5 linked regions of the Homo sapiens genome follow. The protein of the gene in region 3 interacts with the protein of the main gene of each other region in a pairwise test. Each region holds a gene or a part of one and is shown on either strand. Other genes may lie near its edges.

Region 1 (5,358 bases), about 28 Mb from region 3:
GCACCACCCCACGCACAGGCCTTGGGCAGAACACGTGCCCTTGGAGGACACAGTGGTGGGTCTGAGGAGTGAGGAGAGGTTGGGAAAGGCGTTCCAGCCCTCCTCACATCTCTCAGCACCAGCCCCTCCTGGAGCCCCCATCCCTAGTCTTGAATAGACTCCAGGCACCCTTCTTTCCCCCCTCTCCTCTCTCCTTTTTCTTTGGGTAATCTCACTCTGGCAGGATTCTTATGCTAATTGATTGTATGTGTGTTGGGGGTGGGTAGGGCTTCCCTCCTGTGGGGTGGGTGGAGCTAGCGTGGAACCCTGGCATCCTGGGCATTCCTTCCGCCCTTCTGGCTGCGTTGGGGCGGGCTTCTGACCAGGTGGGCTGCAGAGGGTTAGAAGGGAGAAGGTGTTCATGAGGTGGGTGCGTGGGACACACCTTAGGGAGGGTCTTAGGAATTTTTTTGCATTAACTTGGGCCCTCCAGGTTTGGGCAACAGGTCCTACAGGTTGAATAATTTACAAATTTTCCGAGCCTCTGAAGACCAACCACACGCGCGCGCGCGCGCGCGCGCACACACACACACACACACACTTACCCAGCAGCCTTTTGAACAGAGCAGAGCATGTCCTCCCCATACTGTGGGGCTGAGACCCCTTTTGAGCTGCAATTGGGTATTTTCAGAGTGAAGACATAAGCTCAGAGAGGGTCCAGAAACAGGTTCCCTCCCCCATCAGTCCTGTTTACCTACTGTCACCTGACTTCTCCAGTTTGCTACACCTCCAACGGCTTCCAGACCTGAGAAACTGAGCAAACACCTCAGCCTCTGCTTCCCCAGCTTCTCTGACTCACAGCCACTTGGATCTGCTGGTGGTGTGGCACTGAGCTGGTCACTTCCCCTCTCGTGGCCTCAGTTTCTTCAGGCGTGAACCAAGGCTGTGGTGCATCCTCTCACTCACTCCCCTGAGACCTTTGCCCCATTTGCTCCACTGTCTCTGATGGTTATTCAGGGGTAGTGTGAGAGAGATAAGCCTGAGGAGTTATCCCCCCTGTACTACTGGAAAGGAAATGAGGTCCTGGTTTACCTGCTAAGCATCCCAGCAGGTCATTTGGCCAGTAGCAGCTACAGGAAGCCTGTCATTGCCTACCTGCCCCCAGAGTTATTGCCCCACAGGGAGGACAGTGGGAAGTAGACTACCTGACAAAGATATACCAAAGAGACAGAGAGTGACTAGAGAGCTCAGAGCTGCAGGGCTTTAACTCTTCTACCCACCTCCTGGATAGTTAGGGAAACAGGCCCAGAGAAGTCAATTTCCGGAATGGCCTTGGTCTGGAATTTGGAGGATTAAACATGTCATATAGGATGAGGGCTGGCATTCTTGTGAACAAGTTGGTTAGACTGTGGAGGGTAGAGGGTGAACTAGGGTCACAACAAGCTGTGGTAATAGTGGTCATTAAGAGGATTCTGACAGTGCTTACTGCTGGAACTAGTGCACTGTGGTAGTGATGGCTGTCACCAGTGGGCCAAGGAACAAATGCACATGGGGTGTGTGTGATGAGGAAGCCTGGAGGTCTGTGGGGTCCTTCTCCCCTGACCCTCACATCACTGCTTCCCTCCCAGCGGTGGAGACACAGAGCACCAGCTCAGAGGAGATGGTGCCCAGCTCGCCCTCGCCCCCTCCGCCTCCTCGGGTCTACAAGCCATGCTTCGTGTGCAATGACAAGTCCTCTGGCTACCACTATGGGGTCAGCTCTTGTGAAGGCTGCAAGGTGTGTACGTGGTGGGAGTGGGCAGACGGGGGATCCAGTTACCCTAGTAAGATGAGAGACCAGGCACACAGATGCTGTGTCTGAGCAGCACTGCTTTGCACATAGGTGGTTAATAGATTAGGTCAGGCTTGGGGCAACCTGCAAGGCCAGTGAGAGGCTGGTACTCCCAGCATTGTGCTTCAGAGGCCCTCTCTCTTTCCCTCAACTCCAGGGCTTCTTTCGCCGAAGCATCCAGAAGAACATGGTGTACACGTGTCACCGCGACAAAAACTGTATCATCAACAAGGTGACCAGGAATCGCTGCCAGTACTGCCGGCTACAGAAGTGCTTCGAAGTGGGCATGTCCAAGGAAGGTAGGCTGCCATCCTTGGCTTGGGCAGGAGCACTTCGGTCCTACCCTATGGCTGTGGCCCTCTTTCCTCTGGCCACTCCCACTTCCCTGACCTCTGAGACTTGGCCTGCCCTGGGGTGCTGCCTTCTCCCAGGCCAGTCTTATTTGATTAGCTCCATTCAACCAGGAGGCCCCACCATTTCCCATTCTCCCTCTCAGGGAGCTTGACTCTTCCTCTGAATGGGTGAATAAGTAGGGTCTCACATTCCCCCTGTTTCATGGGGGAAATGAAGCCAGTGGGCTTGCCAGTCCCTTTCCCTCCCCTGGACTGAGCCAGAGATGGATATGGGGTGGCTCCTCCTCTCCACCCCCCCCTCGCCCCCATTGTGCTGCCAAGGCTATAAGTGGATATCCTGCCGCCTGCATATCCTGCCCCCCCTCCCCCAGCTCCTGCAGGGTGACAGGAAGGACAGGATGGAGCCGAATGGCCTGGGGAAGGAGCAGGGGCTGCAGGCCCTGGGTGGGGCTGGGGAGAACCAGCCTGGGAATAGGAGCTATTATAGGTGATAGGGAAACTGAGGCAGTAATTACAGTGCCAGAGAATAGATATTCATGATAAGGACTGAGCATATTAAATTAGGGTGAGAGAGGACACCCAAAGGGAGGCTCTGAGGGTCCTGACCCTCTCCTTGCGCCTCCACCCACAAGCTGTGCGAAATGACCGGAACAAGAAGAAGAAAGAGGTGAAGGAAGAAGGGTCACCTGACAGCTATGAGCTGAGCCCTCAGTTAGAAGAGCTCATCACCAAGGTCAGCAAAGCCCATCAGGAGACTTTCCCCTCGCTCTGCCAGCTGGGCAAGTATACCACGGTGAGGAATGGGCAGAGCCCAGTGAGGGCAGGGCACTCTTCACTTTGGGGAATGGGGCTGGGTTGTGTTGGAGGCTATCATCGACTGGTGCTGAGGACAAGGAGGGCATCAGAATGCAGAGGAGAGAGCTTGGGATATTGGTAGAGAGAAGACAGCCCCCAGAGGTGGGCCTTAGCTTGCCTTCCAACCTTCTACCCCTCCCCTCTGCAGAACTCCAGTGCAGACCACCGCGTGCAGCTGGATCTGGGGCTGTGGGACAAGTTCAGTGAGCTGGCTACCAAGTGCATCATCAAGATCGTGGAGTTTGCCAAGCGGTTGCCTGGCTTTACAGGGCTCAGCATTGCTGACCAGATCACTCTGCTCAAAGCTGCCTGCCTAGATATCCTGGTAAGTTAGGCCCTGTGGGTCCTGCCACAGCCCGACCCACATATGGGACCCTCAACAATTCCTTGATCCATGCAAAGATTTCCTTACCCTGCACCCCCTGCCACACATGTGGGACTCCTCAGCTCTCTTTTCGTCTTAGCCTCTGCCCCTATGACCTGATCCTAGACTTTTGGATGCCCTGTCTCCTCCTGACTTCCCGGGACTACCCCTGCCAAGCCTCAGATCCTCCACCTCTGCCTTCTCCATGCCTGCTTCAGGTTGCACTCACTGGGGACCTAACCTCCTCACTTTCCACTCATTCCCTCTTTTCCCCATCCCCCAGAAACAGCACTAACCCTCCTCCACCCCCCACCTCCAGATGCTGCGTATCTGCACAAGGTACACCCCAGAGCAGGACACCATGACCTTCTCCGACGGGCTGACCCTGAACCGGACCCAGATGCACAATGCCGGCTTCGGGCCCCTCACAGACCTTGTCTTTGCCTTTGCTGGGCAGCTCCTGCCCCTGGAGATGGATGACACCGAGACAGGGCTGCTCAGCGCCATCTGCCTCATCTGCGGAGGTGCGGGGGCGCCCCCTGGCGTCTGCTCAGTGCTCAGTCTCCTTTCCCACCACTCCATGCGGAATCTGTCTGGGAGGGGGCGTGGAGGACCCAGTGGTCTCTTCTGCTGGTAATTCTTGCACCTGGCCCCATCCAGAGAGTTCTGAAACCCTGTACAGGCTTCCCAAAACGCCGGTTGGTGATCAGCCATCTGTCACTGTGTCTTCCCCATCTCTTCCTTCCCCTCTCACTCCAGTATACTTGTCCCCATAGACCGCATGGACCTGGAGGAGCCCGAAAAAGTGGACAAGCTGCAGGAGCCACTGCTGGAAGCCCTGAGGCTGTACGCCCGGCGCCGGCGGCCCAGCCAGCCCTACATGTTCCCAAGGATGCTAATGAAAATCACCGACCTCCGGGGCATCAGCACTAAGGGTGAGTCATGAGTGGGTGTCCCCTCTCTGTCTTCCCAGGGCTGTTGGTCTCCCAGGTCGGACAGGAGGACACACAGAGACAAGAACAGAGTAGTTGAGAACCAGGCAATCTACACTGGAATCCTAGCTCTGCCACATAGTAGTGGGAGACTTTGGGCAAATTGCTTCTAAACCAGTACTGTCCAGTAGAACTTTCTGCAATGATGGGAATACAATAGTCATTAGCCACATGTGGCTATTAAGCATCTGAAATGTGACTACTGCAACTGCAGAATTGAATTTTTAATTCAGCACAATTCCAAGTATGTGTGTGTGTGTGTGTGTGTGTGTGTGTGTGTGTGTGTGTGTATATATATATTTAGAGACAAAGTCTTGGGCAAATTGCTTTACTTTTTTAATCTTGTTTGTAAACTGGGCTATTCTTCACGTACCTTGTAACGCTGTCTTGAGGACTAAATTAGTTAATATACAATGTAAAGCCAGGCACCATGGTGCACATCTGTAGTTCCAGCTACTCAGGAGGCTGAGGCAGAAAGATCAGTTGAGGCCAGAAGTTGGAAGCTGCAGTGAGCTATGATTGTACCTGTGAATAGCCACTGCAGTCCAGCCTGGGTAACCCAGCAAGACCCTGCCTCTAAAACAACAACAACAACAACAACACAACAAAAAAAACCTGTAACATATACAGTGTACTTAGAATTGTGCTGAATTAAAAATTCCATTCTGCAGTTGCAGTAGTCACATTTCAGATTGCCACATGTGGCCAATGACTACTGTATTCCTATCATTGCAAAGTTCTATTGGACAGTCCAGGCTTAGAAGGATGTCTGGAACATAGTGTTTGATAAATATTAGCTGTGGTAATAAATGTTATTAAGAGAACAGGACTAGGAACAAGTGACAAGCTCTGGACATTCGAGAGTGGGGTACTTGGGGAGTGGGGTTGGAAGTTGTGTGCATTGCGCTCGCTGAAGAGACAGCCTGAAAGAATGGGATGAATGGGCAGCAAGCCTGGTAGAGAAGGCCAGGTAGAGGTTCCAGG
Region 2 (6,288 bases), on a different chromosome or scaffold from region 3:
CTAGGCCTGGCCGGAGATGTGGGTATGAGGGCGGGTGAGGTGGGCAGGGCAGAGCGAATGCGGTCGTGGTACCGAGATTCATTAACTAGGGGAGAGGGGTCTCTCTGGACCTGTGCCTGGCAGGGGGCATCCTGGGATCTGTTTCCAGAGGGCAGAAGGCCAGAGCCTGGGCCCAGGATGCTGCCCCACGGGGCATGCCCCAGCCAACCCTGAGGATCTCTGGGTACAGAGGCTGCCTGGCTCCCTGGGTCCCCAGCCTGAGGGCTTGCCACGGGGTGGCCTAGGCCCAGCCTCACGCCCCTCCCTTGCCTGGCAGCTGAACGAGGTCTACAGGCAGATCTCCGGTGTACACAAGCTCCAGCAGACCAAGTTCCGGTGAGTCCCGGGGTGCCCGGGTTGGGTGGGGGAGCCGCTCCTACCGGGACTCCAGGAGCCGAAGCCCCCAGGCCGATCAGGCCTCCACTTCAGGGCTATCTAGCTCACAGCGCCCTCTTTGTCCCCACAGGCAGCAGCCCAATGCCGGGAAAAAGTGAGTAGAAGACTCGTGGGTGAGAGGGCCCCCACTTCCTGCCCGCCTGTCCCCAGCCCAGCCACTGCCTCGTCCGTCCCTACTCCATCTCCATCCCATAGGAAGGGAGGGTCAGATGTGTCCGTCAGGTTCGGACCTTCATTCGTTCCTTTGACCATTTCTTCAACAAATGCTAATGTGAAGTGCTTGCTATGAAGTGGCCCCTGGACTAGAGCAGGCAAAAGCAAATCAACCCAGTCCCTGCCCTCATATAGGTGACTGTCCAGCCCCCCACCCGGTACCAGCGATAGCAGGTACCCATCTCCATCCGCTCCAGTGTCCAAGACCCTGATCTTGGGTGCACCTCTGGGGACCAGGCAGGTTACCGAGAGGATGGGCCAGCAGGTCACACACCTTTTTTCCCAGGTCCTACATCGAGTCCTGGCCCTTCATGGGGAGAGAGAGGGAGTGAGGAGGGGGTCTTGATGCAGGGACAGAAGAGCTAGAATCTCAGCACATGACCATCAGTAAGAACCGTTGGCTGTGCGTGGTGGCTCACACCTGTAATCCCAGCACTTTGGGAGGCTGAGGCGGGTGGATCACCTCAGGTCAGGAGTTTAAGACTAGCCAGGCCAACATGGTGAAACCCCACCTCTACTAAAAATACAAAAATTAGCCAGGTGTGTTGGTGGGCACCTGTAATCCCAGCTACTTGGGAGGCTGAGGCAGGAGAATCCCTTGAACCTGGGAGGCAGAGGTTGCAGTGAGCCGAGATTGCGCCACTGCACTCCAGCCTGGGCGACTGAGTGAGAATCCGTCTTGAAAAAAAAAAAAAAGAATGGCTGACCAGCATTTCTTATCCTGCTACGGGCCAAGCATTGTCCTAAGGGCTTTCCGTGTGTGGTCATCTTATCCAACCCTCTCGTCAAGCCTGTGAGGTAGAGATCACTGCTGTTCCCATTTTGCAGATGAGGAAGCTGAGGCTCAAAAGGGTTAAGTGACTTGCCCAAGGTTACCCAGCTATCGAGAACTAGAACCAGGGCTAGGGCCGCGGCAGCCTGGCCTGAGCACACACACCCTTAGCATCTTTGCTGTCCAGCCCTTGATGAGGTGGGCAGAGAAGCCCATTTCACAGAGGAGGACGCTGAGGACAGGGAGGCGCCATGGCTGGGCTGAGGCTGCAGGGTAAAGGGTATGGGGCTGGCATAGGCCTGGAGCACTGCCTGCCTCTGAAGACCCTGCACTTCTTGCTGTCTTACATCCTGGCCCCTGAAGGGGAGAAGACAGGCAGGAGGGACAGGGCAGCAGGTGCCAGCCTGACCCCTCCGCTGCCTGAACCTTCCACCCTCGACCCAGGCAAGACCACACCATTGTGGACACAGTGCTGATGGCGCCCCGCTCGGCCAAGCCGGCCCTGCTGAAGCTTACAGAGAAGCAGGTGGAACAGAGGGCCTTCCACGACCTCAAGGTGGCCCCCGGCTACTACACCCTCACTGCAGACCAGGGTAGGAGGGCGGGTCCGCTGTGCCACTGCCTCGCACCTCCCGCCTGTGTGGCCCTGTGACCCACCTCTGACCACCTCCGAACCCCCACCCAGACGCCCGGGGCATGGTGGAGTTCCAGGAGGGCGTGGAGCTGGTGGACGTACGGGTGCCCCTCTTTATCCGGCCTGAGGATGACGACGAGAAGCAGCTGCTGGTGGAGGCCATCGACGTGCCCGCAGGCACTGCCACCCTCGGCCGCCGCCTGGTAAACATCACCATCATCAAGGAGCAAGGTGGGTCTGGGTGGGGAGAGTGGGGAAGGCAGACGGGGGCTCGGGGGCACTGGTTCCTCCTGCTTAAGTGGAATTGCGACCTGGCCACGTGGCCTGGGCTAGTCACTTAACCTCTGCAAGCCTTGGTTTCTCCATCTGTAAAATGGGTAAGGGCTCTTTTACGGAATGCGTGGCTGTTCACCTCGCCACAGTGCCTGCCTGGTGGTGAGCGCTCAGTAAATGGAAGCTTCTGTTGCATCCTCATAAGGGCCAGCCCCTTGCTCCTCTCTATCTAGAAAAAGGGTTGGCCAAGGCATCACACCGTGGACATCTGACCCCTCCTCCCACCTGTGCCGGAAGCCACAGGCCTCAGGCCTGTTCCTGCTCTCCTCCAGCCCTGGGGCTGAAGGCTCCATCTCTGGTCCTGCCCGTGACTGGCCTCCCTCCTCTGCCTGGCCCTTCCAGGATGTCTGCTGGACACTTTGTTCCAGAACCACTTTTTTTTTTCTTGGGACAGAGTCTTGCTCTGCCACCCAGGCTGGAGTGCAATGGCACCATCTTGGCTCACTGCAACCGCTGCCTCCCAGGTTGAAGTGATTCTCCTGCCTCAGCCTCCCGAGTAGCTGGGATTACAGGCACTCGCCACCACGCCCAGCTAATTTTTCTATCTTTAGTAGAGATGGGGTTTCGCCATGTTGGCCAGGCTGGTCTCGAACTCCTGACCTCAGGTGATCCACCTGCCTCAGCCTCCCAAAGTGCTGGGATTACAGGCACAAGCCACTGCGCCCGGCCCCTCATCTTTTTCTGGAAGGATTTTCCGTTTCGCTCCTGTGCCCTTCCCAGAGGGCAATGCATAGAGGGAACCAAGCGGACTCCTGGATTCTGGGCTGGGCTGGGCAGGGTCACAGGAGAGCAGGAGGTGGGAAGGGACTGGGCCCAGCACACTCTGACAAATGCCCGGGCTCCTTGCAGCCAGAGACGTGGTGTCCTTTGAGCAGCCTGAGTTCTCGGTCAGCCGCGGGGACCAGGTGGCCCGCATCCCTGTCATCCGGCGTGTCCTGGACGGCGGGAAGTCCCAGGTCTCCTACCGCACACAGGATGGCACCGCGCAGGGCAACCGGGTGAGGCTGCGCCACAGGGTCGAGGGTGCAGCCCGGGGGGCTGCGTGGGCACCGCATTGGGTTCCCAAGACAAAGCAGCACATGGCAGCTGCTTGAGTCCCTGGATACTGGCCGTGCCCCTGGCTGGCCTCCCAAGGACACGTCCACCTGCTCCTGCCACCCTGTGGCAGGGGAGTCTCACCTGCCCAGGGTGCCAGTGACACGCTGGATGAGGCTCCATTGCTGCCAGGGACTCAGGCCAAGAGGGCTCGCTCTTTTTTTTTTTTTTTTTTTTTTGAGACAGAGTTTCGCTCTTGTTGCCCAGGCTGGAGTGCAATGGCACAATCTCAGCTCACCGCAACCTCCACCTCTCGGGTTCAAGCGATTCTGCTGCCTCAGCCTCCCTAGTAGCTGGGATTACAGGCATGTGCCACCACGCATGTCTAATTTTGTGTTTTTAGTAGAGACGGGGTTTCTCCATGTTGGTCAGGCTGGTCTGGAACTCCCGACCTCAGGTGATCCGCCCGCCTTGGCCTCCCAAAGTGCTGGGATTACAGGCGTGAGCCACCGCGCCCGGCCCAAGAGGGCTCTTTCTTCCTTCATGGGCCAGGGACCTGCCCAGACCATTCCTGTCCCCTCCTACAACTCAGGATCCACAGGGTAGCCAAACCTCTTGGAGATAAACTCCCCCTATATGCCCCAGTCCAGGGGGCTTTGGGTTTCTTGAGCTGGGATCGAAGACCCCATGTCCCCAGGCCAGACTCCCCAAGGGCTGTCACAATTTGCCAAGCAGCAGGAGCAACCCTTCAAGGCAGGGAGTGCCATGGCTGGACCAGCATCACCTTCACTGCTGAGCCCCAGTGCTGGGGTACAGCCAAATCAGGTGGCACACAGGCTGGACTGGGTTTACAGGCTTCATAGTTTTGTTTCTTTTGTTTTGTGTGGGGATTTTTTGCTTCTTAATTTTTGGGGGAGACAGGGTCTTGCTATGTTGCCCAAGCTGGTCTTGAACTCCTGACCTCAAGTGATCCACCCACCTCGGCCTCCCAAAGTGCTGGGATTACAGGAGTGAGCTACCACGCCCGGCCTAGTTTTTGTATTTTTAGAAGAGATGGGGTTTTGCCATGTTGGCCAGGCTGGTCTTAAACTCCTGATCTCAAGTGATCCGCCCACCTCGGCTTCCCAAAGTGCAGGGATTACAGGTGTAAGCCAGTGCACCTGGCCTTTCTAGTTTTTAAATGTTGGCAACAAATCCATAATTAAAAACAAAGGCGGGGCATGGTGGCTCACACCTGTAATCCCAGCACTTTGGGAGGCTAAGGTGGGAGAATCACTTAAACCCAGGAGTTCAAGACCAGCCTAGGCAACGTGGTGAGACCATGTCTATACATATAATTTAAACATTAGCTGGGCATGGTAGTGCATACTTGTGGACCCAGCTACTTGGAAGGCTGAGGCAGGAAGATCACTTGAGGCCAGGAGGTTGAGGCTACAGTGAGCCATGTTCATGCCACTGTACTTCAGCCTAGGCAACAGAGTAAGACCCTGTCTAAAAAAATAATAATAATTAATTTTTTAAAAATCAAACAAAAAAACAAAGAAACAAAACCTGGCTCAGTGCAGTAGCTCATGCATGTAATCCCAACACTGTGGGAGGGCACAGTGGGAGGATCACTTGAGCCCAGGAGTTGCAGGCCAGCTTGGGCAACATAGTAAGACCCTGTCTCTATTTTAAAAAAATAATAATAATAATAAAGGCCAGGCGAGGTGGCGTATGCCTGTAATCCTAGCACTGTGGGAGGCCAAGGCAGGTGGATCGCCTGAGGTCACGAGTTCGAGACCAGCCTGGCCAACATGGTGAAACCCTGTCTCTACTAAAAATACAAAAATTAGCTGGGCATGGTGACACGTGCCTCTAATCCCAGCTACCCGGGAGGCCGAGGCAGGAGAATTGCTGGAAACCAGGAGGTGGAGGCTGCAGTGAACCGAGATCATGCCACTGCACTACAGCTTGAGCGACAGAGTGAGACTCTGTCTCGAAAAAAGAAAAAAAAAATTATCTCAAAAGTAATAAAGTCTCGCCTCCCTGGGCCCACAGGCCCATTCAGCAAACATAGGGGAGCGCGTAGTCAGCAGGCCCGGGCTGCCTGGCCACATCCTAATTTTATTTACTTCTTTTTATTGACAGGAACTGTTCTCATTATTTTTCCAATGTCCCCCCATAAAAATTCCAAAGAATAATTTTTTTCTTTTAAGAGACAAGGTCTCCCTCTAGTCCAGGGTGGAGTACAGGGGCACAGTCCTAGCTCTCTGCAATCTTGAACTCCTGGGCTCAAGCAGTCCTTCAACCTCAACCTCCCAAGTAGCTGGGACTACAGATGTCCACCACCGCACGGCTAATTTTGTATTTTTTTTTCTTTGAGACGGAGTCTCACTCTGTTGCCCAGGCTGGCGCGATCTCAGCTTACTGCAACCTCCACCTCCAGGGTTCAAGCGATTCTCCTGCCTCAGCCTCCCAAGTAACAGGGACTACAGGTGCGCACCACCACACCCAGCTAAATTTTGTATTTTTAGTAGAGACGGGGTTTCACCATGTTGGTCAGGCTGGTCTCGAACTCCTGACCTCGTGATCCGCCCACCTCAGCCTCCCAAAGTGCTGGGATTACAGGCATCAGCCACCGCGCCCGGCCATTTTATATTTTTAGTAGAGATAGGGTTTCGCCATGTTGCCCAGGCTGGTCTCAAACTCCTAGGATAACATGATCCTTTTGCCTTGCCTTCTGGCTACCCTGTTACACTTGTATAAAGATGCTTTGAGGCTGGGTACAGTGGCTCATGCCTGTAATCCCAGCACTTTGGGAGGCCAGGGCGGGCAGATCGCTTGAGATCAGGAGTTCAAGACCAGCCTGGCCAACATGGCGAAA
Region 3 (4,276 bases):
GAAAGAAATAATAATAATAATAGGAAGGAAAACTCCCTCCTCCTCGCAATAACTTCGGAGCCACTATATTTATTGAACTGGGTTACCCTAGATTGAGTTGAGAACACTCCTGCTTCTTTCAACGGGGCCACAAGACCTAGTCCAAAACCCCAAGACTAATTGTGTAGACCTTAAGTAATTGCTTTTCCTAAATATAAACAGCACCTCCCCAACCCAAATAACCTGAAAGTGGATTAAGGTTGGAGGAGGATTGGTAAAAGCTGATTAATAGATTCATTCCCACTTAAATGACAACCCTCCCCTCTTGCCTTCTATCCATCGAAGTTCTAAAGACCCTGCTGTGATTGCTTTTCTGGAAGGCTTTTGTCACTGAAGTGTGTGAAGTTACTCCTGGTTTGAGGAGTTGGAAATTTTACACGAGTCAAGGATTGCAGTGGCGGCAGCTGGGACGCATCTGTAACGGTGTTAGTTTGCCTGAAAGCAGAAAATTAGCAACCCCAAAGCCCAGCTTGGCTGTTTAGTCTGTAGAAATGACAGGGCGGAGCAGAAAGAGAGGGAGAAAGGAGACTCACCCCTGGAAAGGGAGTTTGCCGTCGAAAACTGGGCTTCTTCTGTTGGAAATCTTAGAGACACTTTCAGTGCAGGTCTTTGGCCTGCTCAGGATCTAGGGAAGGCCTGGCACAAAGGAGAAGGTGCTCAACAAATACGTACAGAAGGGGAAAATGAAGGAAGCAAGAACGGGAGGAATGTTCCTGGTCACCTGGCCCTCCTGTGCCCCACCTCCTTTTAGATGAGCAGACATACAGGGAGAACTCAGAGCAAGCCCAGTCATGGGAAAAGGAACCTCCCTCCCTACTCTCAATAAGGTAGAGCCTAGAATAAATGACAATCTGAGCAAAACTTTACTCATCTGAAGCTATACAAAATAGATTTGGAAAGGCAAACCCTGTATTCACTCCAAGATTGAAAATGCCACTTCAAGTTTTTAGTAACCGTTATTCAATCCAATTGCTGGAAAAAGTTTTCGAGATAATTGAAGTTCATGAAAAAGAGAAACAAACACCCCCAAATCAGGTGATTCCTCACGCCCAGGATTGGGAGGGCAGGTCGGCTCTTGGTGCCAGCTGAAAGGGATTTCTATTTATTACCACTATTTTAAAATGTGTGTCCAATTGCAAAAAGTTGGACTGCCTTGGTCACTTTTGTGTGAAACACTCCTTAAGTGATCCCTTGTTTTAGCCTATCTAGAGAGTGCAAATGAGCAGGTTGGGGACCCACTGCCGCCCCAGCAGAAATACAGTAAAACCATTAGCGTCAAAAGGGGCAGTACACAGCAGATTGTCTGTAGAGGAAAGGCGGAGGTTTGTCCAGACAGCCCCCGCGGGGGTTGCGGTGGGATATGCTAATAGTGCCTGGCCACTGGGGCCGGCCTCCCTCCCGAAAGAATATATAAAGAACCCCAACCCCAGCTTGTCTACCCAGGCCAACAGGCGTCTGCCCTTGTTAATTACCGGAGCGACAGACTAGGGAGCTCCGCCCGGGATTTGCCCATCGGCGGAGGCGCCAGGCTCCCGTTTCTCCCCATCCCTCTCGCTGCCGTCCAGGTGCACCGCCTGCCTCTCAGCAGGATGGACGTGATGGATGGCTGCCAGTTCTCACCTTCTGAGTACTTCTACGACGGCTCCTGCATACCGTCCCCCGAGGGTGAATTTGGGGACGAGTTTGTGCCGCGAGTGGCTGCCTTCGGAGCGCACAAAGCAGAGCTGCAGGGCTCAGATGAGGACGAGCACGTGCGAGCGCCTACCGGCCACCACCAGGCTGGTCACTGCCTCATGTGGGCCTGCAAAGCCTGCAAGAGGAAGTCCACCACCATGGATCGGCGGAAGGCAGCCACTATGCGCGAGCGGAGGCGCCTGAAGAAGGTCAACCAGGCTTTCGAAACCCTCAAGAGGTGTACCACGACCAACCCCAACCAGAGGCTGCCCAAGGTGGAGATCCTCAGGAATGCCATCCGCTACATCGAGAGCCTGCAGGAGTTGCTGAGAGAGCAGGTGGAGAACTACTATAGCCTGCCGGGACAGAGCTGCTCGGAGCCCACCAGCCCCACCTCCAACTGCTCTGATGGCATGGTAAGCAATAGATCTGGTACCTGCTAGGCTACCCTAATCTTTTCTAAAGTCCTTACACCTCATTTAACCTGGTGTGGTGGGGAGAGTGGGGTGGAGGCAGATGCTGAGTTGCTTTAAAAGAAGAGAGGGGTCCACATTTAGAAAGACTCCCCAAACCGCTGCTGAACAAGATTTTAGTTTAACTTTCTAGCAGGTTCTAGGTGTACACTGTAATCGAGTGTTGACATGGAAGATGGGTGGCTGTGAATGATCACTCAGATGTTTTCTCCATTCCTGAATTTATTTTCAAAATATGCCATCTGTGGATCATGCCCTACGCTAATATCTAAAGGCACCGTTTCTAACTTAATGAGGAAATGGAAAGAAATACCCACACGGCCCCAGTTCCTGCTCCAATGAGGCCTGGCTGAAAGATGTTGATGCATTCTTTTTAGAGGGCGTTTGCTCCAAGGCTGCCAGGTTTTAATGTGTTTTTGCCCTGGGAAAGTGTTCTTTCCCTGAATTAGTGTGGCTTTCTTCTACTCCAATCCATTTTGCATGGTTAACCCAATGCACATTGCTGCTGAATTCCACCCCCTCTTCCCTTTGCTGCTGCTCTCCTCTTCTTCAAGCACAGAGATTGACCTCAGTGCCCTGGGAATTTGGAGAGGGCTAGCCCTTCCTAAATCAAGGCAGTGAAGGTGATTGACAGTGTTCGGTTACAGAGCTGGTGGGCAAGCACAGCCTCACCTTTGGTCAGAACATCTTTTGCCAAGACCTGAAAACAAACTTTGTTGTGTGTCTTGTATTATAGCCCGAATGTAACAGTCCTGTCTGGTCCAGAAAGAGCAGTACTTTTGACAGCATCTACTGTCCTGATGTATCAAATGGTAAGAATTGATAACTTCACAGGAGTTTAAAGACCAGTTCAACCTAACAATTCAGCCTATAAGATTCTGTTCTTGCTGATAGTATTGGGGAAGGGAGAATGGAAGTGATGGTTCTTATAGGGAGGCTTTGGTAAAGCAAAATAAACACATCTTCTGCTCCAAATCCCCCTAGCAGACACGCACGCACACATGCATACACACATGCACACACAATGTTGCTTGAAATATTATCAGGGGGCTTCCCCACTCCCCACGTCTACCCCTCAGGAATTGCCAGATATTTGTTGCAAATTTCTATGTTAGGCTTTCTGTGACCACCTGACCTCTGGGTGTCAGAGGAGCTGACCTACAATTTAAGGAGCAACATAAGCAAATCTGTCTATCTTGGGCTAATTATTTTTTAATGCTTTTCTCCTTGTATCCTTAGTATATGCCACAGATAAAAACTCCTTATCCAGCTTGGATTGCTTATCCAACATAGTGGACCGGATCACCTCCTCAGAGCAACCTGGGTTGCCTCTCCAGGATCTGGCTTCTCTCTCTCCAGTTGCCAGCACCGATTCACAGCCTGCAACTCCAGGGGCTTCTAGTTCCAGGCTTATCTATCATGTGCTATGAACTAATTTTCTGGTCTATATGACTTCTTCCAGGAGGGCCTAATACACAGGAAGAAGAAGGCTTCAAAAAGTCCCAAACCAAGACAACATGTACATAAAGATTTCTTTTCAGTTGTAAATTTGTAAAGATTACCTTGCCACTTTATAAGAAAGTGTATTTAACTAAAAAGTCATCATTGCAAATAATACTTTCTTCTTCTTTATTATTCTTTGCTTAGATATTAATACATAGTTCCAGTAATACTATTTCTGATAGGGGGCCATTGATTGAGGGTAGCTTGTTGCAATGCTTAACTTATATATACATATATATATATTATAAATATTGCTCATCAAAATGTCTCTGGTGTTTAGAGCTTTATTTTTTTCTTTAAAACATTAAAACAGCTGAGAATCAGTTAAATGGAATTTTAAATATATTTAACTATTTCTTTTCTCTTTAATCCTTTAGTTATATTGTATTAAATAAAAATATAATACTGCCTAATGTATATATTTTGATCTTTTCTTGTAAGAAATGTATCTTTTAAATGTAAGCACAAAATAGTACTTTGTGGATCATTTCAAGATATAAGAAATTTTGGAAATTCCACCATAAATAAAATTTTTTACTACAAGAAATATTTTGGCTCATGATCTTTTAAAATAACACCCCAATGGA
Region 4 (6,622 bases), on a different chromosome or scaffold from region 3:
CTATAAAAATGGGACCATACATTATGTGACTTTTACAGATGGTCTTTTTCCACTCAGATGATGCCCTTGAGATCATCCACATTGTATAAATGGTCTGTTCCTCTGCTTTTTGCTGAGTAGTCATCTGTGGTGTGGATGTACCACAGTTTAACTGTTCACGTAAATATTTTAGAACATTTTGGTTGTTTTTATACAGACATTTTTATATTAGTATGAGCTCATGGTTTTCTGTTTAATTCAGTGGATTATTATATACTATCATTTTTTATTATTTTATTGCTCCAATTGTCCCCACTGTGGCCAGCGAAAGCTCCTTAAGCTGGCAGCCTTTCTGTTTGATATGTCATCACGATTATTTGATCATTTCCTTTTTGGCAGAAGGTGTTCCAAGCTCATCTTGTACTTTTCTATCCCAGCCCTGGAATCAGCCACTTATCTGAGGATGCCCCTGTGTATAACCCATCTCCCATCTCTGTTGCCATCCCCTCACCACATGGCTGTTCTCCTCACCCACTTGAACTTTAACACTCATGGCAAGCTGTACCTCCGCAAAAACCTCCTTCTTGGCTCTGACGTTCCACGCCGGTCCCCTCATATGTGGATTCCTCCTCTCCCTGCTCTCGCTAAATCACCTGCACACACAAGTGCCTGGCCTACTCAGCTCAGGTTTCTCTACTCCATGCTGAACTGCCCCTTTCCATGGACTTCTTACCCAGCTTGGGCTCTGAGTCCCCAGGCCAGGCCTCCACTCCTTTCATGGGGCTGCCGTTCTCATCCTGATTGGGCTGTACCATGTTTGCACTGGACCACACCCCCCATGTGAATATGCCCCTCATCTGCTGGATCTCTGATATCCTGCGCTGGGCTGCCTCTGTATGTGGGTGCCATCTCACCCTGCTTGGGCTCTGATACCACTTCACTTGGGTCACTGTGGCTTCTCACTACCTAACTGTGACCCAACTGATGACATTAGTACTGAATTGTTTAGGAGGGAGAAGAACTCGCATTTTCTTTGAAGTACCTACTGTGCAGCCGTCTTTCTGGCTAGTTTTCTCTTTGTTAACATTTATCTCTGAGATCTTTAATTATATGTGAGTTGAGCGATTATTCAATATCACCTTTATTAACTGTATAAAAAGCTTGCATTTTACAATCAGGAACCAGGGTGGGCTCAAGATAAAAAGGGTCCAAGGAAGTGATGCTCAGGCTGACCTTTATTTGACAAAAGGATCCTCGTAAAGATTCAGCCCAGCTTTCCTGAAGCGGTGACTCCATAAGGTTTCAGGATCCTGTCCAGACTAGAGACCTAGTGACAGATAATGTGACTCATTGGACAGAAATGCTCATATCCAGAGGAGCTTAAGATTTGGGAGGCAGGCCCTCTCCAGCTTCAGTTTGCAGGAGTGGCACCCTTTTCCCTACCCTTGATGAGGACCCAGGGAATGAAATCCTGGTAGTGGCAGGGATGGGCGTTTTGGGGGATTTGGAGATGGGGTCAGAGCAGGCTGTGCAAGATCAACAACATTCCTGGGAGGCAAAGTCCCAAATGAAGTGCATGAGAATCTGCTGATGACAGGGATGGAGATTAACGTCTGGGGCCAGAGCCCCAGAAGTTCACTCGGGGAATGAATTGGCAAGTATTCGTGCAGACAGAGAGGGCCGTGAGCCATGAGAAGCCACAGCATGTGGTGTTGGTAGGGAGAAAAATTAATTTCAAGGTCCAGGAGAGGCCTGTTTAAAATTAGAGCTTCAAAGTGTAGGTTTTTGCCATATTGGGGTTGGCATTGCTAGATGGCAGGCTGTTCGCTGTCTTGCCATTGTATATTCCTTCTATTTGCCACTCGTGGTTATGGTTCTGGCATTTCATATTATGCATGGCTCTAAATTTTGTTCAGAGTTGCCAGTGACACTGTAGAGACCATGTCTCTAGACAAAGACCACCCTCAATTTTGGAGTGAGATGCCAAGAGTGCTGGGGCTTGAGGGCCTTTGGAAAGGGACATATGGAGAGACATAGTATCTGTTACAGGGGCCTTGGTATGCTGCCAGTATATATTTCCAAACTCTGGCATGTCATGGGAATGTTCCTTGAAAGAGTTTCTGAGAGAAAGAATCCTGTGTGGATGGTAGACTCCTACCACCCCTGTTCCAAGTTGCGGTAATCTGTGAAATTACTCACTGGGGACATTTCTTCCTATAGCATTTTAAGCTCTGAAATGAGACGGTTTGGCTAGTTGGGATGAATTCATTAGCACCTTGGGAAAGACCTGAAGCCTCTTTCTTCTGTCTTCCACCTCACATTCCCCCAGGTAGTGGCTCTATACGATGGTAAAACTTCTACCACAGTAAGTGATGGGTCTCGCTTTGCTTGAGAAGCACAGTCATCTGCCCTGGGGTTCACCAATAGCCCATGGGGCATATTCTGATGAGATTAGTCAGCCCAGCATTTTCCAAAGTTGTTTCCCATTTAATGGGGTGGGTGCCTTCTGGTTTGTCCCAGTCCTCCCCACTCCTTCCTGCACCAGAGTAGCATATTTCACCTGGTAAGGTGTTGGGATTTTCTGCCCTGGTCTAAAGGCACAGTGGCTCAGAGGAAAAGCTGCTCCGGCGACTGCATTTATAGCCCTGGGATTTTACTGTGCTCTCTATACTTTGGGGATTTAGGGGCTGGTGCTGTGATGGTGCCTATGCTTGTGGTTCTCTGGGATTTTGGAAAGAGCCTTGCTTTTCAGATTATCATAGGAACAGGGACTGAACTCTAAAGCTGAGTGAGCAAGGATTTCTGTTTACCCCATCTCCCTCACCAAGCCTGGCTCAGTGGGTGGAGGAATGTACATTGGATAATACGTCAAATTCTGCAGCCACACTGCCAACAATTGGAGTGTGCCTGCCTTCTTAAAGATATTAAGCAGCAAACTGGGTTTCTATTCTCCAGACTACCCTCTTCTTGGACCTTAAACTCTTTGGCTTAGATGAGACCAACAGCCAATTTTTAATGAGCTGTGACAATAAAGACAACATTTATAAACTTTGGCAAGTTTTTCTATTCTCATACTTAAATATTACGTTTCTGAAATTTTCCAGCTAATTCTTAAAAACAAACTAAAATAAATGTTCTAAAATGCAGTAGACTATAGGCAGAATATTGTCATCCTTTAATCCTTCAGGTAAATTTATATGAATTTGTCTCAAGTATAAAAAATTCTAAATATGAAAAAAATTAAAATTTATTTTAAAAATAAAGCTTCCAAAGCTAGGTCTGAACTATAAAAAGAAAGAAATGTTGATCACTTGTATAGTGGAAAGACTCGATCAAGATTAGAAAAAAAAAGCTACTCATACATATTTTGTGTCAGAGACTGCTCCTGGCAGTGTATACATATTAACCTATTTAATTTTCACAACCACCCTGTGCTATACAAACAATTATATCCATTTTACATGTGAGGAAACTAAGGAACAGAAGTAACTTGCCCAATACCTGCAAGTCAGTGAAGTGTTGGGGTTGGGGGGGATGTGGGTGATAGTGTTAAGTCCTTTTTAACCACTTTCGTTCTAACAAAACTCAACTTTGAAATGTAAAGGAGGGTGGACTAGAAAATAGATAAATGTTTAAGGCTAAGTTAAAGCATTTGATTGCGGTGCTTTACCATCCACAGTGATGTACATAATAGGTTTCAGTATCCAAAATGCCTGACCATGACTTGAGCGGCTTTATTTTTCAGTCATGGGTTTATTTTTTCTTCAAGTTGAGAGTTTCAGAAAATTGAGCAGAGACAAAATGATCTTGCCACGTTAGTAAAACCACTGATGGAAATACACTAAAATCCTTCCCATTTCTTTTCCTTTGCAACTAAAATAAAAAATTATCATCAGGTACATAACATTGTGTGCCTGTTCTTGATTTTTCTATCACTGGCATGTTTATGTGACCCATTAGGTGGGACAATTTTTTTACTGTTGGCCACTATGTTCTCAGTTTTTTGTTCTCTTAAACGTGACAAATAACCGATGTGTTTAGCCCTTTCTGTATTTTGTATTGTTTTTGCAGGATAGATTCCCAGAAGTAGAACTGCTGAGTCACAGGTAGGTCATTCTATAACCTGATGCATAGTGCCAATTTATAACACCACTGGCTGTATAATAAGAGTGCTAATTCCATCACATTCTTAGCAATGAGCTCTATTAAAAGAAGGAATCTTAATGGGTAAAAAAGTAGTATCTTTAAATTTAAACATCTTTGATTACTAATAAAATTAATTTTTTGCATATTTCTTTATTTCTTTTGTAAACGGTTCTTATTTTTAACTATTTATAATGGAATGTTTTCTCTGTTTCAGACTTCCACAAGTATGAAAAATGAAAAGGCCCAGGGTTACCTTCTAGAGACAAATAAATGCAGTCTTGAAAGTTTTGGAGTCTCTCTTTTTTTTTTTTTTTTGAGATAGAGTTTCACTCTTATCACCCAGGCTGGAGTGGCACGGTGTGATCTCGGCTCACTGCAACCTCCGCCTCCTGGGTTCAAGTGATTCTCCTGCCTCAGCCTCCTGAGTAGCTGGGATTACAGGCATGCGCCACCACGCCCAGCTAATTTTTGTATTTTTAGTAGAGACAGGGCTTCTCCACGTTGGTCAGGCTGGTCTCGAACTCCCGACCTCAGGTGATTCAACCACCTCAGCCTCCCAAAGTGCTGGGATTACAGGAATGAGCCACTGTGCCCCGTGGGAGTCTCTTTTTTAAAAAAGAAGTTTTGTAGTAATTCCGAGTTTAACAATTACCCTTTTAAATAGCCTTGCCTCTCTCAAGTTTACTCCACTCTGCCTTCTCCTTAACTTCATGCTTTGAAGAAATAGGCTTCAGGGGCTTCATCCTTTGCTTCCAACTCACTGTCATCCTCTGGGGACCTACATCTTTTTTTCATTGCTTTGAGAAATAAGTGACTGTTACCCTTCCAATAGAAATTAACCTTAATAGAAATGAAGACTTAAGCTAAAAGAGTTGTAAACATTGGCCAAGGGGAGTGAGAGTTTTCAAGGGTTTCTAGATACCCAGCTAAGGCCAAATGGCACCTTTTGTGCAAGGTAGACAGCCAAACACCTTGAGCACAAAGACTTCGTCTTTATAACCATTGCTCACAAAGACATAGTACTTATTATATGCTGGATTCTGTTCTCTATGCTTTCCATGTGTTAACTTGTTCTTACAACAAGCGTAAGATAATGGCATAAGTATCCCCATTTCACAGATGGGAAAACCAAGGTACAGAAAGTATAATTAGCTTAGCCTGCCTTAACAAATACCATAGACTGGGTGGCTTAACAACGGAGATTTATTTCTTATAGTTCTAGAGGCTGGAAAGTCCAAGATTATGGTCTGGCATTGTTCAGTTTCTGATGAGGGCTTTCTTCCTGGCTTGCAGATGACTGCCTTGTCACTGTGTCCTCATATGGCAGAGAGATAGCTAGCTTTGGTTTCCCTTCTTCTTATAAGGGCACCAATCCTATTGGATTAGGGCTCCATCCTGATGACTTCATGTAATCTTAATATCTCCTAGAGACCCTGTCTCCAAATACAGCCTTATTGGGGGTTAGGCTCTCAATATATGAATTTTGGGTGAACATATGCTGTTCATAGCATTCTGTCCCTAGCCCTTCCCCCAAATTCATTTTATCACATGCAAAATATATGCATTCCACCCCAGCAGCCCCCAGAATCTAAACTCATTCTCACTTTAAAGTACAAAGTCTCATTTAAATATCTTCTAAATCAGGTATGGGTGAGACTTGAGCTATGATTCCTATCTTTCTCCAGCTGTGAACCTCTGAAACCAGACAAGTTATGTGCGTCCCAAGCACAATGGTGAGACAGGTGTAGGATTGACATTCCTATTCCAAAAAGGAAAAATAGGAAACAAAGTGTTAATGGGTCCCAAGCAAGTCCAAAACCTATTGAGGCAAATTCCATTATATCTTAAGCCTCAAGAATAAATCCTCTTTGCTTTGATGCAGTGTCATCCTTGTGGCTTGGCAGGGTGACCTTCCCTCGGAAACTGAGGAGGAACTCAGCTCTTCTCCTGCCTGTGCCCCCTCCTCCAAAACATACACACACACACTGAGTGGCCACCCTGATCTCTGAGTTGCCTTTGGGGTCATTTCTTTCCTTTGCTTAAATAGTGCATGTTTGTAGCCAAATAGTGATATGGTCTAGTCCTATAGAATCTGAGAAGGCTGACAGCTTACCTTCATTCTTTCCCATTTTCTCTGTCCCCTTTCTTTCCAGCTATCAGGGTCTTTCTGGTATAATCCCGTCGGTATTCCTGGCTTCAGCTGAGATGGCTAATTAAGTATATGAGTCACACTCATGATCTGTTATCAAATGGTTGCTCAGCCACACCCTTAGTGATCTCTTCAGAGTAAGCTTTCTTAATTTTTGCAATATGGATAGGTTAAGAAATTTTCCAAGTCCCCAAGTTCTGGTTCCTTTTTTTTTTTTTTTCTTTTTAAGACAGAGTCTCTATCACCCAGGTTGGAGTGCAGTGGCACAGTCTTGGCTCTCTGCAACCTCCACCTCCTGGGTTCAAGCGATTCTAATGCCTCGGCCTCTTGAGTAGCTGGAATTACAGG
Region 5 (6,105 bases), on a different chromosome or scaffold from region 3:
GAGCTTAATCTCCTGAGTGCAAGGATTTTCTACGGTTCACAGATGCATGGTTTCATGTGCAAGACTGATTTATAAAGTTATGAATGACTTGAAAACAAGGCTTCACTGTGTTCTGAAAAATAATAAATTAATTGCCAAGATAAAATAGCCTGAACATGTGTTGATGGAGTGTGAAATTTTAGATGCTGTATAAAGAATAACCACAACTTTGGTTACGCAGCAAGTCAGATATGGCTTTTTTATATAATGCTAATCAAGTTTCCAAGTATGGAAGAAAACCTTTCAGCCAAGCCATTGGAGCTTAAGAAACCTTTACCCTTTATAGATTTTAACTGCCCGTACCTCAGTGCCCTTTAAAGAATCTCTTTTAAAGTGTTATTAGAATACTGCTTTGTAAAAATTAAAAGTAAGCAGGAGATGAGATGTTGATCATCTTGTGTTTACTTGTTAAAAAATATCTAATTTGGCATATATATACAATGAATTTTAGAACTTACTCAGCATGGGATTTAATTTACTGACTCCATGATTTACTTGAACAGTTTTTCTCCTTTTGAAAATTTCAGAATACTCTAGAAAATTAAGAATTTTAATTCTCTTTTGAGCTTGGATATTTTATTTTAAATATGGCCAGGTTATTACTTTAAAAGAAAAGATCTAAGGAAAAGTTAATAGTTGAAAATAAAACTCAGAGCCTTTGTGAAGTACCTGTTACAACATTTCTGAGGAATTTTGTCTATTCTTTAAAACAATATAGCCATCATAGATGTGTGCGTGTGTATGTGTAAAATATTGATTAAAACAGTGTTTAGTTGTAAATTATCATAAAATCATTTTTGTCTGTTAGCATTTTCCTGTTCTTTCATTATCCCACAGTCAAATCCTATTTCTAGCCTTGAACATAAAAAATATTTTTAAAATGTCTTAGACTAGCTTTATTCAATGAACCAAATAATGTAGATTTTATCTTTACTACATCAAACATGTTAATGTATGATGATGAGAAAGACACTTGATACTTCTTTATAATCATAACACATTTGAGTAACTCATTTTGAGGTGAGGAGACTACTCTTGTATTTTCATCTTAGATAGAGGGTTTATGTATATATTTTGGGGAGAGGGATGGATAGGAGATGTAAAGAATTTAGTGAAAAAAATATTTACTACATTTATAACACAAACACTAAGCTTAAAACTGAGGTATTAATTTTTTCATGCATTTCTAAATTTACTTTGGAAAGGAAAACATAAAAGTTATCCCAATGCTATGAATTCCAGATAGAACTATATGACTATAATTTATTCATAAAATAATTTATAACCTTCCAAAACATTCTGAACTATATGCTTTGTTTGTCAAATAAGTTTCCTTGAATTTTTAGATAATTAAGCACTTCTGCTAAAGCCATTATATTATTTTCACTCCATCATAGAAGATACCCAGAAGAGTAGTAAAGATAAAATAAATATTTCAATTGCCAGGAAAAAGCTGGGTGTAGTGGGCATGCCAGTAGTCTAGCTGGGGAGGCTGAGGCAGCAGGATCACTTGCGTCTAGGAGTACAAAGACAGTTTGGGTAACATAGCAATACCCACCTCTCTTTAAAAAAAATAATAATAAGCTGGGGAGAAAAAATGTGTTCTGCTGGATTTTCTTAGAGTATATATATATATTTGTGATAGTTGAAAGTGAGAATAATGTAGCTTAAAAAATTTATAAAAATGAATTTTAAAAGTTAAACTAGCAAATAAAATTCATTTTATCTAATGAATTTGGGCCTTTTTAACCATGTGTCCCTCTTTTCTTCAACTTTTCTTTAACTTACAGGAATTTAATTTTGTTAAAAGAAAATAATTATCCTTGATTATAATTTGAACATTGGAGATACTAAAAAATATATATATATATATTCCACCTTGGCACTAACTTTTCTTTGTTCAGATATGGTAGAGATGGATGATTTAGAATAAATGAGACAAGTGGCCAGTCTCTATGTGTGGCTTCTGAAGGAAAAATTTGTAGAATATATTATTTAAAAACTAATAGTTCAAATGTAGGCAAAGATAGCCTTTATTTTATGTTATGTATTAAAAGTGTATATTATAAAGTGTGGGGATGCCCATACCTGGGGACTAAAATTATAAAGACTGATTGAGGACATACTTGAAATACAAAATTATTTATTTAATGTTGACTCCTAAGTAGTTTAAACATTTAATTGTCAAATTTTAAAGCTGCAAAGAATCTTGTTATCTAGTTCAATGCTTTTATTTTATAGATAAGAAACCTGAGAAACAGGAAAATCTAGCTCAAATGAAGAAGCTAGTTGGGAGAAAGTATTTTAACAGGGAGCTAGTGAATATTTTGTAGGCAAATCACAGGTCAGGAGAGTGGCAAATGTGACAGCTAAGCCTTAGTGCAGGATACCTAGAGTAGGACAGGAATATTTTTGAGCCAGGTATAGAAGTGTATCTTCTTTATTGAGGCAGATCAAAAGCCAGGAGAACTGAAGAGTGAAAATGAAGATTCCTGGCCCAGACAGCTAATTTGTAGAAGTATTGAAATCTGGAGGTCATATCAAGCAAGACACAGTTTCTGAAAAAGAATGATGAGTTCACTAGACTTAGAAACTTTTAAAATCAAATAATTTTTAAATCACCATCTATTTAATACAAATTTGGAGCAAAAGAAAGAGTTGACTGTAATTTAAGAAAATTCAAATTTGGAAAAATTAGCTCTGGTCACTTTGTGTAATTCTGTGTTACCATATTTTGTTTTTGTTGGTTTTCCTTTAGTTTCCTATTAAAAGGCCTTTTGGAACAAATTTTAGCCTTTAATTTTGCTAACCTAAGAAGAAATGGACTTTTTAAAAAATTAAGAGATAAAGGACCTTTTATCTAAAGATTACATATTCTGGTAGAGTAAAATGAGAGCAACTCTAGAACTTAGAGAAGACTCATGTAGTTGGGTTGATTAAAAAGGAGAAAGTCTAAAGAAAAATGTTGGGTGAGCTGCAGTCACGTAGGGTGGTATAAAGGGCAAGGCTTTGGAGTTAAGACAGTCTTTTATTCAAACAGTGACTCCACATTCAATTGTGATACAACTTCTCTGGATCATCAGTTTCCTCATCTGTGAAATAAGGATTATAATACTTGCCTCATAGAAAAGTTGTTGGGTTTAAAGAGACCCAATGTAGTATGGAACACCTGGTATACAGTTAGTTCTAAGTAAATACTAGCCTCTTTTCTCATGAGTGCAGGGGAGCGTGCATGTATGCATGTTTGCTCCTCCAGTGTATCAGGGGCACTATCTATATCACCCTTCTCAGACTTTGGTGATTTTACTTGCTTATTTGTCTTCCTTTTCATAGAGCCAAGGTATTTCGTGTATTTGGTAAAGGTCCAGAAATAAAAAGAAAAATTCTCAGTGATGGAACTCTGCATTATCAGATAAAGATCTGTTTTAGTAATGCAAAGTTGCGTTTTAAAATGTGAATGGATTTTCAAAAAAATTGTGAAAGCATATAATTGAAGTTTTAAGAAAAAATTTTGTTTAAATCTTTTAAAACCTTTTTCTTCTCCTTTTACAGGTCATCCTCATAGAATTTTTACCAAAGACACCGATTTTTCGACCAGATTAGCATTTACTTTATTTATAGAGACTTTCCAAGTATGTTGTCTTTCCAATGGTGCCTTGCTTGGTGCTCTCCTGGTGGTGACATAACATTGGTTCTACAGAATCGTGTGGTGTTTTTTTTGTTTTTGTTTTTGTTTTTTTTTTAAATAACCGCATGTTCTAAGTGTGCATTTTTGTCAATCTTTGCAACAGTTATTTCATACAGATGTTTAATACTTAAGTTATTGTGCTCTTTTCTGTTATGTATTCTGATTTTCAAGGATTACTTTTTTGTATTATCAAAAAAATACATTTGAACTTAGCATAAAAAGTGGCCAGCCTTTTTTATTTTGTCACCAAGGTACACACAGTCCTTTATTTATAAATTCCTTAACAGAGAAAAACACCTTTGTAAGGCTCAACTTACCTATTCCAGCAAGCACACTTTTTCTGTCATTTTTTCTTTCTTTTCAAATTTGATATTGTCATTATTTTAAAATAGTAAGTTTTCTTTAATAGTCTTTTGGGACCTAACATACCCTTTCTCATACAATTCCTAATGCTCTGTTTATGGCAGATAATCTGTAATGTTATGAAGACCTATCAAAAAGTTTTAAAAGTATTTCTGTCTTCAAAGGTAGTAAGACAGGATTAAATTTTTATTAGAATAGACAAATCAGTGAATGGTATGCATGTATCTAGTGGTTACTAGAACTCAGGATCACACAATATAGTAGCATCACGATCTGTGTATATTTTTGATCAAGATGATAATAATGGCCTTACTTGGGTTTTTATCGTTTATCAAATCTTACATACAAAAGAGTGGAAGTATTCCTTTACAAAATTTCTAAGGAAAATATTTCTTCCAATCTATCACAATTATAGAATGGATATATGTTTCTGAAAAGTTTTTGAAAGAAAGCAAAAGTTCTAGAACTAAAAGTAAGCTGGTATTTAATATCCCGTTGATATTTAGAAAAGATTGTTAATAAGAAATGGAGGATGCATTTAGTACTATTTTTATCCACTAGTTCACTTTCAGTACAGTTATGTATACTTGTTTTGATTGAGAGTGTGACATACATGTTAAATCAGATTAGCTTGTTTCTTTTAAATATACATATACACAAATACATATAATTTTTTCTCCTTTTTGTTGTGCATATCTCTATGCATTTTTAAACTTTTAGATTTGTGAATGACCTATGTGTAAATTTTTGTTTTTATAAACCAGAAATTATACAAGTTTTAATGTGTGTCAAGAACTTGTTCCATACAACTGTGGTATCGAGCAATAATGTTAATAACTTTTGGAATTATATAAACTATGCTTAATAATTTGTATTGAGAATTGGTACCACTATACAATACTTTTTTCCTGTATTAAATCTTTTAAATACCAGTTTCATTAATTTATATACCTGTATTTTTAAAAGTATTTCTTTGTACTTGCCAAAGTACTGTAATCCTATATAAATTTGAATAGTCAAATGCCAGTATCTCATGTCCTATATCCTGTCTTGGATATTAGGAGCTATCTTAAAAACTAGGATTTAAGATTTTTTTTTGCTTGAGAATTATATGTTTTCCTTGCCCCCCAAGTAACAACTTGAATTTGTAGAACACTTTTCCTGTGAAGAGTTCAAAGTACAAAGAACTCAAATACTTATTTTATTTAACTTGTATCTAGGGTGTGTCCTACCACCTTAAAGTAGTGCAATTAAAAATAATGCCATCTAGAAACTTCAGTATTCCTCTGTGGTTTCAGTGTGAAAAATAATTGTATCTTCATACAACGCTAAATCTGCCTCAGGATTCAGAAAGATCAGAAAAATATAATGACTGTGTAAACTATGCAACACAGTGTTCCCTGTATAAAATTGTATAAATCCATAGAGCACCATATTGATAAGCTTTATGAGAAGAACTTATCTATTTACATAATTTATTCTCCTGTTATTAGTCTACTGTGGATAATAATTTTAAAATTACTATATTCCCTTAGGGATATTTTAACTGTAAGATAATTTTCATAGTTGATTATATTAAGTATAGAATCTTTAAAAGCTTTTCTGATTTTATTCAGCCATGTGCCATTTGCTTAAAGATTCCCTAGAAACATACACTTCAATGTATATATAGAAAATAACTGTGAATACTTAATATGTGGTATTATAAGCCAGTTATGCCTTGGGCATTTAGATTTTCATGCTTGGATTTTCATTAGTAACCTGTAGTATAACTGTATCCTTTCTTGAACCATGAATTTAAGTGCCCACATTACTGGATAGTAGAGATGCCCATATTAAGTAAACATCAGTCTAAGGAAATATTTAAAGTGATGATTTTTCTTCAGCTTCTGTTTTCTGACTTAAAGTTTGTGGGACATAAACTGTAGAGCTTTTTAAACTGGCCAAGAAAAAATATTATTGGCAGAAAGTTTGGTATATGGATTCTACATAGGCTAAGGTAAATAACTTATGGT

The links.
Region 1: the proteins of MYF5 (region 3) and RARG interact in a two-hybrid assay, tested with the Homo sapiens proteins (one large-scale study listed by BioGRID and IntAct).
Region 2: the proteins of MYF5 (region 3) and ITGB4 interact in binary tests that used the Homo sapiens proteins (3 or more experiments, as listed by UniProt).
Region 4: the proteins of MYF5 (region 3) and FIGLA interact in binary tests that used the Homo sapiens proteins (3 or more experiments, as listed by UniProt).
Region 5: the proteins of MYF5 (region 3) and CHIC2 interact in binary tests that used the Homo sapiens proteins (3 or more experiments, as listed by UniProt).

The regions. Positions count from the first base shown.
Region 1 is NC_000012.12:53,212,044-53,217,401, reverse strand, and holds part of RARG (retinoic acid receptor gamma), read left to right. Parts: intron 1-1,607; coding exon 1,608-1,756; intron 1,757-1,967; coding exon 1,968-2,109; intron 2,110-2,795; coding exon 2,796-2,956; intron 2,957-3,166; coding exon 3,167-3,343; intron 3,344-3,701; coding exon 3,702-3,906; intron 3,907-4,158; coding exon 4,159-4,317; intron 4,318-5,358.
Region 2 is NC_000017.11:75,740,477-75,746,764, forward strand, and holds part of ITGB4 (integrin beta-4 isoform 1 precursor), read left to right. Parts: intron 1-316; coding exon 317-375; intron 376-505; coding exon 506-529; intron 530-1,864; coding exon 1,865-2,013; intron 2,014-2,105; coding exon 2,106-2,285; intron 2,286-3,236; coding exon 3,237-3,385; intron 3,386-6,288. UniProt on the Homo sapiens protein: Integrin alpha-6/beta-4 is a receptor for laminin. Plays a critical structural role in the hemidesmosome of epithelial cells. Is required for the regulation of keratinocyte polarity and motility.
Region 3 is NC_000012.12:80,715,436-80,719,711, forward strand, and holds MYF5 (myogenic factor 5), read left to right. Parts: upstream 1-1,476; 5' UTR 1,477-1,628; coding exon 1,629-2,129; intron 2,130-2,922; coding exon 2,923-2,998; intron 2,999-3,425; coding exon 3,426-3,616; 3' UTR 3,617-4,236; downstream 4,237-4,276.
Region 4 is NC_000002.12:70,775,100-70,781,721, reverse strand, and holds the end of FIGLA (factor in the germline alpha), read left to right. Parts: intron 1-4,050; coding exon 4,051-4,085; intron 4,086-4,339; coding exon 4,340-4,355; 3' UTR 4,356-4,412; downstream 4,413-6,622. UniProt on the Homo sapiens protein: Germline specific transcription factor implicated in postnatal oocyte-specific gene expression.
Region 5 is NC_000004.12:54,007,632-54,013,736, reverse strand, and holds the end of CHIC2 (cysteine-rich hydrophobic domain-containing protein 2), read left to right. Parts: intron 1-3,591; coding exon 3,592-3,642; 3' UTR 3,643-3,948; downstream 3,949-6,105.